5 linked regions of the Homo sapiens genome follow. The protein of the gene in region 1 purifies or fractionates together with the protein of each later gene. This does not show direct contact. Each region holds a gene or a part of one and is shown on either strand. Other genes may lie near its edges.

Region 1 (3,518 bases):
TATATCTGTAAAATACCTTCATGGCAACACCTACATTAGTGAGGACTACAGTCTAGTCGAATGGGCACATCAATAAATTCATCACACTTTTCTTATAAACAGCTGTATAACATTCCATAATATTATGTAATAACCACAGTCATCTCTTGGTATGCACGGGATATTGGTTCCAGGACTCCCGTGCATATCAAAATCCATGGATGCTCAAATCCCTTATATAAAATGATATAGTATTTACATATAACCTATGTACATCCTCCATATACTTTCAATCATTTCTAGATTATTTATAATACCTAACACAATGTAAATGCTATGTAAATAATTGTTATACTGTATTGTTTAGGGAATAAAAACAAGGCAAAAATCCATATGTGTTCAGTAAAGAAGCAACCAGCCGCTTTTTTCTGCATATTTTTGATCCACAGTTGATTGAATCCAGATGTGGAACCCATGGTTACAGAGGGCTGACTGTTCGTTTTTTGCTAGACATTCATTTTATATTTAGCTTTATTTCCCACTACAGATATTGCTGCAATAAATATCCATGTACGTATCTGATTGTTACTTACTGATGCTTTTATTCCTGTAGGATCTGTACCCTAAAGTGGAATGACTGAATGTTAGGATGTGAACAGTTTTAATACATACTTGCATATTAAATTCTGAAAGATTTGTAGAATCTATACTCCTAGCATAATTTTATGAGTACCCACTTCCGCATAGCCTCACCAGCACTGGATAGTATCTATTTGTTTCAGTTTGCCATTTCTCAACTAGTAAATTGAAAAAAAGTGTTGGAACCTTTTTTTTTTCATATGCTTAATGGCTATTTTCATTTCTTTTGTGAATTGCCTCATACCCTTTACTCATTCTTTTAACATAAATTTGGAAGGACTCTATATTGTTGATGTGACACTTTGTCAGTCACGAATTTCACGTTTTCACCAGTCTGTTTTTTGTCTTTTGAGTTTGTTTATATTGCCTACTTCTATAAATATTTAAATTTTTACTTTGAAAAATGTATCTATTATTCCTTTTTTGGCCCCTAGTTTCATCTTGCTTAAGATCTCTTGCCATCCAAACTATAAAATTTCCTGATTAAAAATATATTTTTGGTTTATTTTTAGAACAGTAATCCATCCGGAATTTACATTTTTATATGATGTGAGAAAGGGGACCTCATTTTTTTCTTCAAGGTGGATAGTCAGTTGCATCTGCATCATTTATTAAATAAATCATTTATTTTCCACACAGTTTAAATGCCATTTTTCATATATAGTAACTCTGCATATATACTTAGATGTGTTTTTAAACTTTCTATTCTGTTCCACTCTTCTGTTTGTCATTTCTTGTATCAAGACTATGCTGTTTCAATTACAGTAGATTTTGAGAAAGATTTAATGCCTGGTACAATCAATTCTTATTCACTCTTATCATTGCTTCTTAGCAGTTCTTAGATGTTTATTCTTTGATATGAATATCAAATTTATTTATTCTAGGTTTAAAAACACTGCCGTAAAAACTGGCATAGAAAGCCCATTTGGATTCTGATTGGCATTATATTAAATTTTTTAATATGTAACGGCTTGGCATTGTTATTAAGTTTTCACATTTAAGACAAGGCTCTGCTCTCCTTTCATCAAAATCTTGTTCTGTATGCTTCAGGAAAATGGTAGAGTTTTCTTTAGATTCTGTACATTTCTGCCTCTTTGTACATTACTTTTGATAATTTCTATTTTTCTGGGAAATTGTTCATTTCCTCTGGATTTTTAATTTAATGCTATATATCTACACATAATATTTTCTAATTATCATATCTTCCATAATTGTAGTTATCTCTCTTCTTTTGGGTTCATAATATTTCATATATTTTTATTTTCTCACTTTAATCTTTTAATCAGGCTTATCAGGGAGTATTGATCTTTTTTATGTATATATAATCATTATACATATTTTTAAGGTACATGTGATATTTTGATACCTGTATACAATGTGTAATGATCAAATCAGGGTAATTGCGATATTCATCACCTCAAATGCTCATCTTTTCTTTGTGTTGGGAACATTCCAAATATTTTTTTTAGCTATTTTGAGATATACAATAAATTATTATTAACTCTAATTTCCCTACTGTCCTATCACAAACTAAATCTTATTCCTTCTAACTGTGTTTTTGTACCTATTAACCAGCCCCTCTCCATTGACCTGAGCCTTTCTTTCTGAGCCACTGATAATCACCATTCTACTCTCTATCTTTATGAAATCCACCTTTCAGCTCCCATGTATGAGGGAAAATAATCTTATTTCACTTAACATAATATCCTCCAGTTCCATCCATGTTTCTGCAGATGACAGGATTTCATTTTTTTATGGCTGAATAATATAACATCGTGTATATATGCCACATTTCCTTTATACATTAATCCACTGATGGGCATTTAGGTTGATTTCATATTTTGGTTATTGTGAATAATGCTGTGATAAACATGAGAGCATAGATATTTCCTCGGTATATTGATATCCTTTCTTTTGGATACATACCCAGCAGTGGCATTGCTGGATTATATAGTAGTTCTATTTTTAATTTTTTTAGGAACTTTTCTACTGTTTTTCTATAATGGCTGTACTAATTTACATTTGGTCGTTTCAAAGAACGTGTTTTTGGTTTGTTTATCCCTTCTGCAGTTTATTTCTGTTTCTTCTTAATTTTCACTTTTATTTCCTTCTTTTTCCTACTTTCAGGATTTAAGGAATATTTTAGATCCTTTCCACTCTTTCATTGACTGAATACTTACTTTGTTTATTTTGATTTTTACAAAATCAGAAAATCATTTTAGACATGGGAGGGTGTATGTGTCGAGGAATTTGTCCATTTCTTCTAGATTTTCTAGTTTATTTGCGTAGAGGTGTTTATAGTATTCTCTGATGGTAGTTTGTATTTCTGTGGGATCAGTGGTGATATCCCCTTTATCATTTTTTATTGTGTCTATTTGATTCTTCTCTCTTTTCTTCTTTATTAGTCTTGCTAGTGGTCTATCAATTTTGTTGTTCTTTTCAAAAAACCAGCTCCTGGATTCATTGATTTTTTGAAGGGTTTTTTGTGTCTCTATTTCCTTCAGTTCTGCTCTGATCTTAGTTATTTCTTGCATTCTGCTACCTTTTGAATGTATTTGCTCTTGCTTCTCTAGTTCTTTTAATTGTGATGTTAGGGTGTCAATTTAAGATCTTTCCTGCTTTCTCTTGTGGGCATTTAGTGCTATAAATTTCCCTCTACACACTGCTTTGAATGTGTCCCAGAGATTCTGGTATGTTGTGTCTTTGTTCTCATTGGTTTCAAAGAACATCTTTATTTCTGCCTTCATTTCGTTATGTACCCAGTAGTCATTCAGGAGCAGGTTGTTCAGTTTCCATGTAGTTGAGCGGTTTTGAGTGAGTTTCTTAATCCTGAGTTCTAGTTTGATTTCACTGTGGTCTGAGAGACAGTTTGTTATAATTTCTGTTCTTTTACATTTGCT
Region 2 (3,518 bases), on another chromosome or scaffold:
GAACAACATCCCATTAGAGGCAACCCATGACCCTGACAGGCAGGCTGTGGAAATAAAAAGTGTGTCATAGAGCAACCTGCAAGAAATTCATGCTGTAACTGGGAAAGAGAAGACAATATAGACAGGCTTTTCATCTGGTACCAAAACAACTCACTGTAATTAGCAGATGCAGTTTTGAAATGGGCATAAAGTTGGGGCTTGCTACTGTAAATACTCCTTGATTTCTTCCTAAGTGAATTGTTTCTTTATATTGCTTGTTAGACACCACTCCCATTTCTTCCATCTCAAGTATAGAAAGCAAGCCCCTGAGAGTGACCATGAGGCGGCGAGGGAATGCATCCTAGGTGAGGGCTTAGCAAGGCAAAGGCAGGCTCTGTTGCTGTTACCCTGGGCTTTTCAAAGGTGAATGAAATCCCACAAATCTTGGTCATTAGTTAAGGGAAATGGAGACCCAAAGGCAGAAACCGATGCCCATGGTCAGGCTAAAGAGCCGTGGGGAGAGTCGAAGTCTGCCGCTCAACCTGAGCAGTGGCTCACTCCCCCGGGGTGACTCACCATGGAGACACCCGCCTCCCCATCCTCCATCCCTCTCTTGTGCCCCTCTCTTCTCGATTAGTTCTGCCAGCTCTATGCTTGGTCATGAGTTCACTGAAGGTTTGGGATCCCTGCCCATCACTACACAGATGAGCTTCTAGGAGACGACCCCATGGCCCTGGGCCTAGGCTGATGAGCAAGACAACCAAGTCCCAGGGTTTCACCCTAGCCTTCTTCAAATGCTGAATCCTCTTGCAGTGGATACACCTGAGCTCGTTTTAATCAGGTGGCCCAGAAGGTGCAAAGAAAGACTCCTTTTCATTCCCAGAGGAGAGACTAGCAACTCTTCCAGAAATAATGAGGCCACTCAGGAGAAGGGAAAGAAAACAAAAGCTCACCTTTAAGATCCGATTTTGGTTCTTCTCCTTCACATAAGAAAACATGATCCTGCAACAAGGCAAACCACCAAATCAGGACTCACTCAGAAAATTTTACCCTCATTCAAATGGACAATGAAAATCAGGACCATATAACCTTTTAATTTACAAAAATGCTTGTATATCTGACCTCAGGACCCCCCCAATCCTCTACAGACTATTCTGAAACAAACCTGATATTTCATTTATCCATACATATTTCAAGATGTAGCTCTTAAAACATCCTTTAAAAAATAACAGTAGCACCCTCAAAACTGCGAATATTAATGATTCCTTAAATATCAAAGTCAATTTTTTTTTTTTTTTTGGAGACAAGAGTCTTGTTCAGTCATTCAGGCTAGAGTGCGGTGGCATGATCTTGGCTCACTGCAGCCTCTGCCTCCTGGGCTGAAGCGATCCTCACATCTCAGCCTCCCGAGTAGTGGGGACTACAGGCGTGAGCCACCACACCTGGCTAATTTTTCTATTTTTTGTAGAGACAGGGTTTTGCCACGTTGCCCAGCTCATCTCAAACTCCTGGACTCAAGTGATCTGCGTGCCTCAGCCTCCCAAAGTGCTGGGATTATAGGCGTGAGCCACTGTGCCCAGCCTCAAAGTCAAATTTTTAAATACTGGCATAATATTTCATCCATGCTGTAATATTTCATCCATAATAATTTCATCCATGCTGTAGCGTGTGTCAATGCTCCATTCCTTTCTATGGCTGAGTAATATTCCATTGTATGGACAGACCACATGTTGTTTACCCATTCATCTGTTGATGGACAAATGAGTCATTCCCGCCCTTGGGCTACTGTGAATAATCCTGGTGCAAGGATCTAGTGTTTGACTCCTTGTTTTCAAATCTTGTGAGTACGTACTTAAGAGTGGAATTATTCGGTCATATGGTAATCCTGTTTAACTCTGAGGAACTGGCAGTATCCACAGCCACTGCACCATCTTCCAATCCCACTAGCAATGCACGAGGGCTCCAGTTTCTCTGCATCCTCACCAACTCGTATTTTCCATTTTTACATCACACCATCCGAACAGGCATGCACTGGCATCTCACGGGTTTCTGATGTGCATGTCCCCAGTTATTAATAACACTGACCATCTTTTCGGGTGGTTTTTGGCTGCTTGTATCTCTTCTTTGGAGAAATGTATATTCAAGTCCACTACCATTTTTGAATTGGGTTTGTTATTTCGTTGTTGAGTTGTAGGCATTCTTTATGTATTCTGGATAGTAACTCCTTATCAGAAATGATTTGCAAATATTTCCTCCCATTCTGCGAGTTATCTTTTCACTTTTTTTTTTTTTTGACACGGAGTCTCACTCTGTTGCCCAGGCTGGAGTGCAGTGGCGCAATCTCGGCTCACTGCGCCCTTTGCCTTCTGGGTTCAAGCAATTCTCTTGCCTCAGCCTCCAGAGTAGCTGGGAGTACAGGCGCCCAGCTACTTTTTTTGTATTTTTAGTAGAGACGGGGTTTCACCATGTTAGCCAGGATGGTCTTGATCTGACCTCGTGATCCGCCTGCCTCAGCCTCCCAAATTGCTGGGATTACAGGTGTGAGCCACTGTGCCCAGGCTTTTTTGTTTGTTTTTTGTTTTTTTGAGACAGAGTCTCATTCTGTCACTCAGGTTGGAGTGCAATGGCGCAGTCTCAACTCATTGCAACCTCAGCCTCCCAGGTTCAGTTGATTCTTCTGCCTCAGTCTTCCGAGTACCTGGGATTACAGGCATCCACCATCATGCCCGGCTAGTTTTCGTATTTTTAGTAGACATGGGGTTTCACCATGTTGGCTAGGCTGGTCTCGAACTCTTGACCTCAGGTGATCTGCCCACCTCGGCCTCCCAAAGTGATGGGATTACAGGTGTTAGCCACTGTGCCTGGCCTGTTTTCATTCTTTATAGTGTCCTTTGATGCACAGAAGTTTATAACTTTAATGAAGACCTATTTATTTACTTATTTTTTCAGACAGTCTTGCTTGTTGCCCATGCTGGAGTGCAGTTGCATGATCTTAGCTCACTGCAACCTCTGCCTCCTGGGCTCAAGTGATCCTCCCAACTCAGCCTCCTGAACAGCTGGGACCACAGGTGTGCACCACCATGCCCGGGTAATTTTTTGTATTTTTGTGGAGAAGGGGTTTTGTCATGCTGCCCAGGCTGGTCTCAAAATCCTAGGCTCAAGCAATCTGCCTGCTTCAGCCTCCCAAAGTGCTGGGGTTATAGGCATGAGCCACTATGCCTAGGCTTTTTATAATTTTTTTGAGACAGGATCTCATTCTGTCACCCAGGCTGGAGTGCAAATGGCAAAATCACTGCTCTCTGCAGCCTTGAACAACTGGGCTCAAGCAATCTTCCCACCTCAGCCTCCCAGGTAACTAGGACCACAGGTGCACGCAACCATACGCAACTGATTTTTTTTTTTTTTTTTGGGACGGAGTTTCGCTCTTGTTGCCCAGGCTGGAGTGCAATAGCACGATCTCAGCTCACTGCAACCTCCACCTCCTGGGTTCAAGCGATTCTCCTGCCTCAGCCTCCCGAGTAGCTGAGATTACAAGCATG
Region 3 (3,518 bases), on another chromosome or scaffold:
GAAATGTAGAACGTGAAATAAAGATGAAGCCATTCTGAGTCATGTGCAGACCGTGGGAAATATCTCCCTGTATTTGACAAAAGGGGAAATGGCAGCCATAGCTAATTCTGAAGATGAAAAGTGTTCCTGCCTGGGTTACTTGATGAAGAATATTATTAGCAATCAGCAAGTCAAGTGGAAATAATTTGTTTTGTTTTGTTTTCTCCCCTTCTAACTATTGGCATGTTGGTAGAATTAACTTGGCTGGCAGGAGAATGAACCGCCTGTGCCGTTGGGACACAGGAGATTTCTGAGCTGGCAGACTGCACACTCCATGTAAAACCATGACTCTTTCCACCATTCTTGTGTACACGTGTGCCTGAACATTGGTGTCTGCAAAATCCGAGACGTCTGTTTCAGAGAAAAATTGCTGGAAGCCACTGATTTAGAATTTTAATAGGATTTTTAAAAAATCTGTGCTTAAAAAACATGTAATTTAATCAGTGTTGTAGCCCCCCTGCCCCCCCAAGAATAGCCTTTCTTAGGTTTCTTAGGTTGTCTTACGAACACTGACAGAAATGTGTAGGTTCAGGGCACCTAGAGCAGATGTGGAAGTTCTTTCATTAAGGTAGCCTGCGTGAATCATCCCTGTGACTCAAAGCCTGAAGCAGTTTTAGCCTGATCTCCTTGGCTGCATTTTTAGAATCTTAGACATTCCAAGCTGAAAGGGATTTTGGGAATTATATAGTCCATCTAATCTCCAGAATTTACAAATGAAGGAACTGAAGTCCAAGGGGAGAAGTGAATTGGCTTGCCCAAGGATATACCTGTTGGCAAAGTGAAGGCTGGAACTTTTGACCTTGTACATTCAGGAATTGTGGCAGAGCCTTTCCTGCTCGTCTTAGAATGTAATGTACTATAGGGAGCCCGCAGCCATCCTCTACGGTCTGGCTTTATTGTCTCTTTTCTCCCTATTTTTTAGTCTCCTTCTACCTTTTCTCAGCACACCTTTCAAGTGGGATGGAAGTTGAAACCCACTCAGCAGAGAATATGAGAAATACATGTGTAATGACACAAAGTTAGGTGTGTTAGCATTATGTCCAGCAAAGGAGGACACATACCCAAAGGTTGGGAGAAGTGGGAAGAGGCCTCTGAAATATTTGGCCTTGTGCTGAATGAGTCGAAGGAGGGATCAGGGAAGAGGTACCCGCTGGATTAGCTGCTGCCAAGTGCCCGTGGCAGCTCAGGAACTTAGACTCTCAGCAGTCTCTGTTCAGGAGATGGGAGGGACAAAGCGCTATCATTGGTAAGAATACAGCAGTTGCTCAGAAAAAAGGACTGTCCATCATACTGCAGCTGCAGAGTGGCCTTGGGTATATAGAAACATTGTTAATGTTCTGTTGGGAGCATCTTAGACTGATTAGCAGCAGAGCTGATTTTCACTCCCAGGGATCTGGGTCTCTCTCTTTCTCGGTTAATGGCACCACTGTCCACCCACCCAGCCATCTAAGTCACATCTGGGATCATCCTAGATTCTTTGTTCTATTTCAACTCTAATATATAATCACAAGTTTCTTCCAGTTTTACTTTCTTCTTCTTCTTCTTATTATTATTATTTGGAGACGTAGTCTCGCTCTTTTGCCCAGGCTGGAGTGCAGCAGCGTGGTCTTGGATCACTGCAACCTCTGCCTCCGGTGTTCAAGTGATCCTCCCACCTCAGCCTCCTGAATAGCTGGGATTACAGGCACATACCACCAAGCCTGGCTAATTTTTGTATTTTTTTGTAGAGACAGGGTTTTGTCATGTTGGCCAGGCTGGTCTGGAACTCCTGACCTCTGGTGATCTTACCCACCTTGGCCTCCCAAAGTGCTGGGATTACAGGCGTGAGCCACTGCTCCCAGTCAACCTTCTAATTATTTTTAAGTCTGCCCTCTCCACGCTATTATTACTAGTTTCCAGCCCTAGTTCAAACTCCTGTCATCTTTATTCTAGATTATTGTGAAACATATTAACTGGCCTTCCTGCCTGCTGTCTTTCTGGCTTAAGTCCATCCTTACATTGATGTTCATAGTACTCTTTTCAAATTATCAAGCCCTTCAGTAGTTCCTAGTCACTAGAGGATAAAGATTCTTAGCATATCTAGAAAACTCTCCCTGATCAGCTCTCTACTGACTTCTCTAGATTCCATCCTATTTCTCCACTTCCTACTTATGCTTTTCTCCTGCCTCTGTATTGGTTATCTATTGCTGCATAACAAATTTTTAAATGCTATAAATTCTATGACCTCCCAAAATAGTGATATAGGCGTTAAGAAGAAATTATTTGGGCAGATAGTGAGAGTACAGGAGTCCTCGGTAAGGTTTTCCTTTTAATGAAAAGCAGACCCCAAATCATTTTCTTTTCTAACAAAGAGCAGCCTGCCTATAAAATTGAGCTACACACATAGACAAGTAAGCTGGAAGCTTGCACAGGTGAATGCCGGCAGTTGTGCCAATAGGAAAAGGCTACCTGGGCTAGGCATGTTCAAAATGGCAGCTCCGTCTTCCCTTTTCCTTTCCAACCATGTGTACAGTAGGGAACAGACAGTAATGCTGGCCAAGTGGAAAGCCCATTTGCTTAATAAGGTTAGGGTGAGGTGGCCAGCTTCCCTGCATGCTATGTAAATGTCACACCTGGTCCAGCCAATCTGTGGGCCAATCTTTGTCTATATAAATCAGACACCACCTCCTCAAGCCTGTCTATAAAATCTGGTGCACTCCACGGAGGGCCAGATTTCCCATTCAGATGCCCCTCTCTTGCAAGAGAGAGAAGTGTTCTCCTTTCTCTTTCTTTTGCCTACTAAACCTCTGCTCCTAAACTCACTCCTTGTGCGTGTCCATGTCCTTAATCTTGGCATGAGATGGCGAACCCCAGGTATTTACCCCAGACAGTGATGCCACCTCAATAGGAGAGACAGCAGCACATGAGGGAAGTATAGAGGGATTCATTTAATTAGGAGTTAAAGTCAAGGTTGGAAACTAGTTTGGAGGTTTGCAGTAGTCCAGGCAAGTCACAATAAAGAACTGGATTAGGCCATGAGAGTAGATTTAGAGAGGTGAAGGTGAATTTGAAGAACATCTAGGAGATTCAGTTGGTGATTGATTGGCTGTGGGAATGCAGGGCCAGAGAAAAATGGATAAATAAAGAATACATCCTGGATTTCTGGCTTTAGTACTTGAGTTGATGGGAGTATTTCCAACCAAGATGAAAAATAGGGAAGTAAGGACAAGTTTAGGGAAGGAGATAATAAGTTTAGTTTTTGAGTTCTTCTTAACTACTTTTGATTTTTGTCAATATAATAAAAGTAATGTTATAATTCTCATGATAAAAAATTTTAGTCTTCTTCTCCCCACCTCCCCATCCTTCTCTTATCTCTGAGACCTCCTCTCATACTTTTACCTGTCTGTTCTAGCCTTTAATTCCAAATTTCCAAGTAATCTGCCTAATCTGTTTCTTGATTTATTGGTTTTAGGGTTACACCTTTTATTTGAGGTATTTTC
Region 4 (4,302 bases), on another chromosome or scaffold:
GAACTAAATTGTCCTGTGGTTTTCCTGTCTGGATTTTGCCGATTGCACCCCCATGGGTGTGAATTAACTGAACCATACTTTAAAAATTACTATAATTTCATGTTAATATGTACAAAATCTGTACATAAATCCCCCAATCTTTTTCAAAATTCAAGATGCCAGTACTTGTACTCTTCCATAGGAACTTTAGAATTAACTTGGCAAATTCCAGAACAGAACCCACTGGGACTTTCATTGGAATTGCCTTGACCTTTTTTTTTTTGTTTTGAGACAGAGTCTCGCTCTGTTGCCCAGGCTGGAGTGCAGTGGTGCAATCTTGGCTCACTGCAACCTCCGCCTCCTGGGTTCAAGTGATTCTCCTGCCTCAACCTCCCAAGTAGCTGTGATTACAGGCACGCGCGAGCACGCCCGGCTAATTTTTGTATTTTTAGTAGAGATGGGGGGGGGTTTCAACATTTTGGCCAGGCTGGTCTCGAACTCATCGCCTCAAGTGATCTGCCTGTCTCGGCCTCCCAAAGTGCTGGGATTACATGCGTGAGCTACCGCACCCAGCCTAGGCTTAATTTTTGAATCTTTAGCTTTTGCTGGTATTATGAAGGGGGTTGTTTTGTTGTTCTTGTTGCTGCTATTTTCTAATTGATTAAAAAAAATTAAGATGGTGGGGGTGGTCTCGTTATGATGTCTACGCTGTTCTGGAACTCTTGGTCTCAAGGGATCCTTCTGCTTTAGCCTCCTGTGGAGCTGGGATTATAGGTGAGCGCCACGAAGCCCGGCCTCTAATTAATTATCGGTGGTGTATAAAAAGAACAGACCTTCTTAATTCGAATCCCATCTTCTCCATTTATTATGTGATTTTGGACATGTTTGTTCAACTTCTCCTAGACTTTGTTTTCTTTTTACGACATGGGGATCATAAAGCCGGGATGCAGTTGGGAATAAAACCGGATAAAGCTCCCAACGAACCGCGGGTTTCATAAGATCAGGGCAGGGACTGGGTAAAAGGTTTCAAAGACTCCTGCACTATTGGGAAGGACGCTACGGGCGAGTCTATGTTGCATGCAGGCGACTCCATGTTAAGACGAAGTGAACTCCCTGAACCTTCAAGGGATAATGCACAACCATAACGAGAATAATTTTTAAAAATAGAGTTTTCTTCCCTGAAAACTTGGAGAGGTCCAGGATGCGCGCCATTCTGTGATCTAGGTTGACTCTCCACCTCTTCAGTTGGTACCACCTTTCCCAAATAGTTTGGAGCAGAGCACTCCGGTCTTTGTAATAACGTACTCCTAAGAGCTGTTCCAGTGGACTCACGCAGGCGCAGGAGACTACACTTCCCAGGAACTCCGGGCCGCGTTGTTCGCTGGTACCTCCTTCTGACTTCCGGTATTGCTGCGGTCTGTAGGGCCAATCGGGAGCCTGGAATTGCTTTCCCGGCGCTCTGATTGGTGCATTCGACTAGGCTGCCTGGGTTCAAAATTTCAACGATACTGAATGAGTCCCGCGGCGGGTTGGCTCGCGCTTCGTTGTCAGATCTGAGGCGAGGCTAGGTGAGCCGTGGGAAGAAAAGAGGGAGCAGCTAGGGCGCGGGTCTCCCTCCTCCCGGAGTTTGGAACGGCTGAAGTTCACCTTCCAGCCCCTAGCGCCGTTCGCGCCGCTAGGCCTGGCTTCTGAGGCGGTTGCGGTGCTCGGTCGCCGCCTAGGCGGGGCAGGGTGCGAGCAGGGGCTTCGGGCCACGCTTCTCTTGGCGACAGGATTTTGCTGTGAAGTCCGTCCGGGAAACGGAGGAAAAAAAGAGTTGCGGGAGGCTGTCGGCTAATAACGGTAACGATAATTATTGTTATTACCATGCTAACAGGTTATAAACATTGACTGAACTAAGCACCCTGCATGCCCGTTCTCATTTAATTTCCTCGCCAAGCCAATGTAGTTGGTGCTATTCTTGGTCCCTCTTGACAGAAACTGAGGAAGGAGGAAGGAGGAGGAAACTGAGGCCCAGAATCTAGATAAATTTCGAGAAATGGGTGATACAGTAGCCATGCCCTCAGGAAGTGTGGCGTTTGATGGAGGAAAACAGAGGTAGTCACAAATAAGTACATTTCAAAACTGTTGTCTAAAACAGGAAGATAATTAGATGGTGTGAGAACATAATTGAGGGAGAGTTTAAGTCCACTTGGAGTTGTCTTCTATTTGGGATTTAAAATTCATTATATGTTATCCATATTTGTCCAGCTCTCTTTTTGTATGGAATCACCAGATATTATTCCCTTTCTCATTTCCTTTCTCAACATTTATAGATTGGAGGGGGGAAGGAAAACCAAACCAGGTTATAATGTAGAATTGGTTTACCCCCTATTTTCTTGACATATAACGTCTGGTTTTCCACATATAATTTTCTAGTAGTTCAGTAACATGGACTCCCCCCAAATCAGGCCTACTTAGGATAGAAGAGGATTTTTGACTCCTGGATTTTGCTTTAAGACCAGCTCTTGGTTTACTTCCTGCTTCACCCTTACCTTTTCTTGACATCCTGTGGCCTCTCTTTGAATTTCTCTCACTCATCAAATGTTGTCAAAAATAGGACTACTTGCTGCTGTAGTAAGGATATTCTTGTATTGTGGCCTTAGTGTATTACATCACCCCCACGTCAGACTTGAGTCCCCCTGGTTGGTTTGGGTGAGTCAGTTCAGTATTAAGCTGGCATTCTTGGATCAAAATTATGTGGCTGTCAGCTAACTCAGCCATTTAGTTGACCTTTGAGGGTACTGTGCTCAGATTGGCATGAGATATTATGGGTGTACAGATATATGATGTACTCAAACGTTTTTTGGTATGTTTGGGGACAAAAACATGGTTTGAAATTGGCAAGTGAGAATCAGAGCAAGATAGGACACCATCTGGGTGCTCTACTGTTTTGTATTCTAGGTGTCTGGACAATTTAGAGGTGAGGGAGTTCAAGAGCCAGTTTGTGTTTCTGTGCTTCACAAAGCCACCCTTGTCTAATTCTTGATAACCAGAGTTTGGTTAGACAGGGACTGAAACAATCCTAGTGCATAGGAATCACCCACTAAATACCTGTTGAATTGAGTAGGCAGGAAGGCACTATCTGAATTGACTACAAAATTGCGGGTATGAAAAACTGGATTGTATTCAACTAGGTTGGTAAATTTGTTTAGACTTTCAAATTATCTGAATAGGGTTTATTTGGCCAACCTTATGCATAAATCTGTGTATTCCAACCTTGATAAAATTAATTTATTGCAATTAAGTTTGTCCAGGATTATGTGAGAGAGTCCTTCATTTCATTTCTTTAGTTACCAGGAGATGTTCAGGGCTCATCTACATCTCCTGGTTAATTTTCCTTCAGCTTTTTCTGTGTCTCTTCCCTAATTCTCTTTGAGTTCCTGGGAGAAAGAGGAGGGATATTTAAATGCCCTTTGACATACTTAATTTTCTTTGCTATGGGCAAAGTTAGGAAGCAAAATTGACTATAGAGTTGTTTTTTTTGTTTTTGTTTTTGTTTTTTTTTTTTGAGACGGAGTCTCACTCTGTCGCCCAGGCTGGAGTGCAGTGGCGCGATTTCAGCTCACTGCAACTTCTGCCTCCCCTGTTCAAGCAATTCTCCTACCTCAGTCTCTTGAGTAGCTGGGATTATAGGGATCTGCCACCACACCCGGCTAATTTTTGTATTTTTTTTTTGAGATGGCATCTCACTTTGTTACCTAGGCTGGAGTGCAATGGTGCGCTCTCGGCTCACTGCAACCTCCGCCTCCTGGGTTCAAGCAATTCTCCTGCCTCAGCCTCCCAAGTAGCTGGGACTACAGGCGCATGCCACCACACCCGGCTAGTTTTTTTGTATTTTTAATAGAGATGGGGTTTCACCATGTTAGCCAGGATGGTCTCAATCTCCTGACCTCGTAATCTGCCTGCCTCGGCCTCCCAAAGTGCTGGGATTACAGGTGTGAGCCACTGTGCCTGGCCTAATTTTTGTATTTTTAGTAGATACAGGGTTTCACCACGTTGGCCAGGCTAGTCTCAAACTCCTTATCTCAGGTGATCCACCTGCCTCGGCCTCCCAAAGTGCTGGGATTACAGGTGTGAGCCACCTTGCCTGGCCTTAGAGAGATTTCATAACCCAAGCGATTCTGTGAATAGATCTGTATTTGAGACAGAGATGTAGAGATCAGCAGCCCAAGGTACTCTGTGAAAAAAGGATAGATAACTGCGGAGGGCTTCCGTTTTTGTTTGTGTAGGGAAACTTGGTAAAAGGGGAATAAAGAACAGTGAGAAAAGTATAAAATTGTA
Region 5 (3,518 bases), on another chromosome or scaffold:
TATTATATAATAGCATGGGTGGATAATTTAACATATTTGATATTTCTTTGCTACTTTTGAAGACATTGGCTCTTTATGGCTCACAGTTTTTAAAAATTGAGGTATAATTTACATATAAAATGCTCAGATTTTAAGTGTACAGCTTGATGATTTTTGACAAATGTATATGCCCCAATCAAGATTTAGAACATTTCCCTCTCTCCCAAAAGGCTTTCCATACCCTCCTGCAGTCAGTCTACCTCCCCACTTGCTACCCCAGACAAATGCTCATATTTCTATCACTAGATTAGTTTTGCCTGTTACAGAATTTCATATAAAAAAAATCATACAGTATGTACTCTTTTATGTCTGACTTACTCCACTCAGTATAATGCCAGATTTATCCATGTAGTTGTAGAATCACATTTTTCTTAAAATGGATTTTTTCCCCCTTAACAGTGACTTAAGTTTTTCTTCCATTTTTCTGTTTTTATTTCTTCATAAAATATTAGAATAATTGACCATAAGAAATGAATCAAGGTTACTAGTTAAATCTCCATTTCTGCGTAGCCAACTAGAATATTTTCAAATGGAATATTGAGGAAGTTACTAATTACAACTTTTGAATTTTTAATTATGTCGTTGCATTAGTAGATATTTAATACCTACAATAGGTTAAGAGTTGATCAGTTTTGCATCTATATAGCCTATATACTTTTTATTATGTGGTACGCTTTAACAGTTTTTTTTGGGACCTTATATAGTGTTGCTTTCAACCAGTGTCTAGTCTAGTGGGGAAGACAGACATGTGAACATGAATATAAAGCAAACTGAAATATGAAAAGGAAACTAATATACTGAGGATTCCTGTGTGCTCATTATACTTTATTTGATCTTCAGGATCACTCTGATGTATTATTATTCCCATTTTACAGGTCAGAAAATTGAAGCTCAGGTTAAGTAATTTGTTCAAGGCCATGTGGCTGATAAATAAGTGTCAAGATTGGGATTTGAACACAGGCCTATCTGACCTTCAAACCTATACTATTCTTCTGTCTTGCCTTGTTTTAACAGTAGCGTTACAGAATGTGAATGAAATGTAGAGAATGAAATGATTCACTTTGTTGCAGGAAAATCAAGGCAGGAATAAGCATTTAAATAACATTCAAGGCTGGTTTAGATTTAAATAGGCAAAAATAGAGGTGAAATAATTTCATTTGGGAGAGAACAGCAAGAAATACAGAATGGCATACAAGTACAAGGCATTTTTGTGGAATAATGTGGCTGGAGAAGAGGGTATATAGGAAAAAATGTTGCAGATACGGTTGTAACAGGATTGGGCCAGATTGTGGAGTACCTTAAATTTTTCGTATAAAATTTCAACTTTATATTTTCAAGTAGTTTTTGAGTAATTCGGTGATATCATCACACTTTTGGGAAGATAACTCTTGAATTGTAAAACAAAGAAAGGGAGAAATGAGAGATGAGTTTAAAAATGCTTGTTAGAAGGCTTTTTTAGTAGTTCAGGTGAGAGATCTCAACCTAGGTTGAGGTCATTGGGAATTAATGGGGAAAAATGTGAGCGATACCACAGAAATAAGTAGGACCTGGCAGCCACATTGAATATATGGGAAAGAGATGGAGTCCTGATGCAAGATCTTTTTTTTTTTTTTTTGGTCATCATTTTCCCTCATTAAAAAAATATATAATTCACACACTGTATACTTTACCCTTTTAAAGTGTACAATTCACTGTGTGTGTGCGTGTGTGTGTGTGTTTTTTTTTTTTTTTGAGACGGAGTCTCTGTCACTCAGGCTGGAGTGCGGTGGCGTGATCTCGGCTCACTGCAACTGCAACCTCCACCTCCCGGGTTCAAGCAATTCTCCTGCCTCAGCCTCCTGAGTAGCTGGGATTACAGGCACCTGCCACCATACCCAGCTAATTTTTGTATTTTTAGTAGAGACGGAGTTTCACCATGTTGATCAGGCTGGTCTCGAACCCCTGACCTTGTGATCCACCTCGCCCGGCCTCCCAAAGTGCTGGGATTACAGGCGTGAGCCGCCGCGCCCGGCCAATTCACTGGTTTTTAAGAGTTGTGCCGGCATCACCACTGTTTAGAACATTTTCCTCACCCAGAAAGAAACTGTGTACCCATTACCATCACTCCCCATTCTCCCCACCCCTAAACCCTGGCAACCACTAATTTACTTTCTGTTTCTATGGGTTTCCCTATTCTGCACATTTCATATAAATAGAATCATGCAATAGGCTTTCTTTTGTGTCTGACTTCTTTCACTTAGCATGATGTTCTCAAGATTGTAACGTGTCAGTACTCTTTATTTCTTTTTTTATTACTGAATAATATTCCATTGTATGAATGTACCATATTTTATCTATCAGTGGTAGGCATTTGGGTTTTTCCCAATTTCTGGCAATAATGCTGCTATAAATACTTGTGTATAGGTTTTTTGTGTGGATATGTTTTCATTTCCATTGGATATTCTATTGGATATGTACCTAGGATGGAAATTTCTGGTTCATATGATAACTCTGGTTTCATATATATATATATATATATATATATATATATATTTTTTTTTTTTTTTTTTTTTTTTTTTTTTTTTTTTTTGAGACGGAGTTTTACTCTTCACCCAGGCTGGAGTGCAGTGGCGTGATCTCGGCTTATTGCAATCTCTGCCTCCCTGTTTCAAGCAATTCTCCCGCCTCAGCCTCCTGAGTAGCTGGGATTACAGGCGTGTGCCACCATGCCTGGCTAATTTTGTACTTTTAGTAGAGACAGGTTTTCACCATGGTGGCCAGCCTGTTCTTGAACTCCTGACCTCAGGTGATCTGCCTGCCTCGGCCTCCCAAAGTGCTGGGATTACAGGTGTGAGCCACCACACCTGGCCTGGTTTTATTTTTTGAGGAACTGCCAGACTTTTTCAAAATGGCTGCACCATTTTGCATTCCTGTCAGCAGTGTATGAGGGTTTTGACACTTCCACATCCTGTCTAACATTTCTTTTTTATTGTAGCCATATAGAAGGTGTACAGTGGTATCTCATTGTGGCTTTGATTTGCACTTCCCTGGTGGCCAATAATGTTGGACACTTTTTTGTTTTTGGAGAAATGTATATTCATGTCATTTACCTTTTTTTAAAAAAAATTTAAAATTGAGATGGGGTCTCACTATATTGGCCAGGTTGGTCTTGAACACCTGGCCTCAAGCAATCCTCCTGCCTCAGCTTCCCAAAGTGCTGGGACTACAGGTGCAAGCCACTGTTCCCAGCCACATTTATCTCTTTTTATTTTATTTTATTTTTTGAGACAGAGTCTCGCTCTGTAGCCCAGGCTGGAGTGCAGTGGCACGAACTTGGCTCACTACAACCTCCACCTCCTGGGTTCAACCAGTTTCCCTGCTTCAGCCTCCCGAGTAGCTAGGACTACAGGTGCAGCTGGGATTACAGGCATGTGCCACTACGCCCAGCTAATTTTTGTATTTTTAGTAGAGACGGGGTTTCACTATGTTGGCCAGGCTGG

What was found.
Region 2: the proteins of ARHGEF9 (region 1) and JPT2 purify together in Homo sapiens (affinity purification with mass spectrometry, with the first as the bait; one large-scale study listed by BioGRID). This does not show direct contact.
Region 3: the proteins of ARHGEF9 (region 1) and CPVL purify together in Homo sapiens (affinity purification with mass spectrometry; one large-scale study listed by BioGRID and IntAct). This does not show direct contact.
Region 4: the proteins of ARHGEF9 (region 1) and TPX2 purify together in Homo sapiens (affinity purification with mass spectrometry, with the first as the bait; one large-scale study listed by BioGRID). This does not show direct contact.
Region 5: the proteins of ARHGEF9 (region 1) and NSRP1 purify together in Homo sapiens (affinity purification with mass spectrometry, with the first as the bait; one large-scale study listed by BioGRID). This does not show direct contact.

What each region holds. Positions count from the first base shown.
Region 1 is NC_000023.11:63,649,203-63,652,720, reverse strand, and holds part of ARHGEF9 (rho guanine nucleotide exchange factor 9), read left to right. Parts: intron 1-3,518. UniProt on the Homo sapiens protein: Acts as a guanine nucleotide exchange factor (GEF) for CDC42. Promotes formation of GPHN clusters.
Region 2 is NC_000016.10:1,695,275-1,698,792, reverse strand, and holds part of JPT2 (jupiter microtubule associated homolog 2), read right to left. Parts: intron 982-3,518; coding exon 933-981; intron 1-932. UniProt on the Homo sapiens protein: Nicotinic acid adenine dinucleotide phosphate (NAADP) binding protein required for NAADP-evoked intracellular calcium release. Confers NAADP-sensitivity to the two pore channels (TPCs) complex.
Region 3 is NC_000007.14:29,136,520-29,140,037, reverse strand, and holds part of CPVL (probable serine carboxypeptidase CPVL isoform b precursor), read left to right. Parts: intron 1-3,518. UniProt on the Homo sapiens protein: May be involved in the digestion of phagocytosed particles in the lysosome, participation in an inflammatory protease cascade, and trimming of peptides for antigen presentation.
Region 4 is NC_000020.11:31,737,801-31,742,102, forward strand, and holds the start of TPX2 (targeting protein for Xklp2), read left to right. Parts: upstream 1-1,489; 5' UTR 1,490-1,821; intron 1,822-4,302. UniProt on the Homo sapiens protein: Spindle assembly factor required for normal assembly of mitotic spindles. Required for normal assembly of microtubules during apoptosis. Required for chromatin and/or kinetochore dependent microtubule nucleation.
Region 5 is NC_000017.11:30,119,816-30,123,333, forward strand, and holds part of NSRP1 (nuclear speckle splicing regulatory protein 1), read left to right. Parts: intron 1-3,518. UniProt on the Homo sapiens protein: RNA-binding protein that mediates pre-mRNA alternative splicing regulation.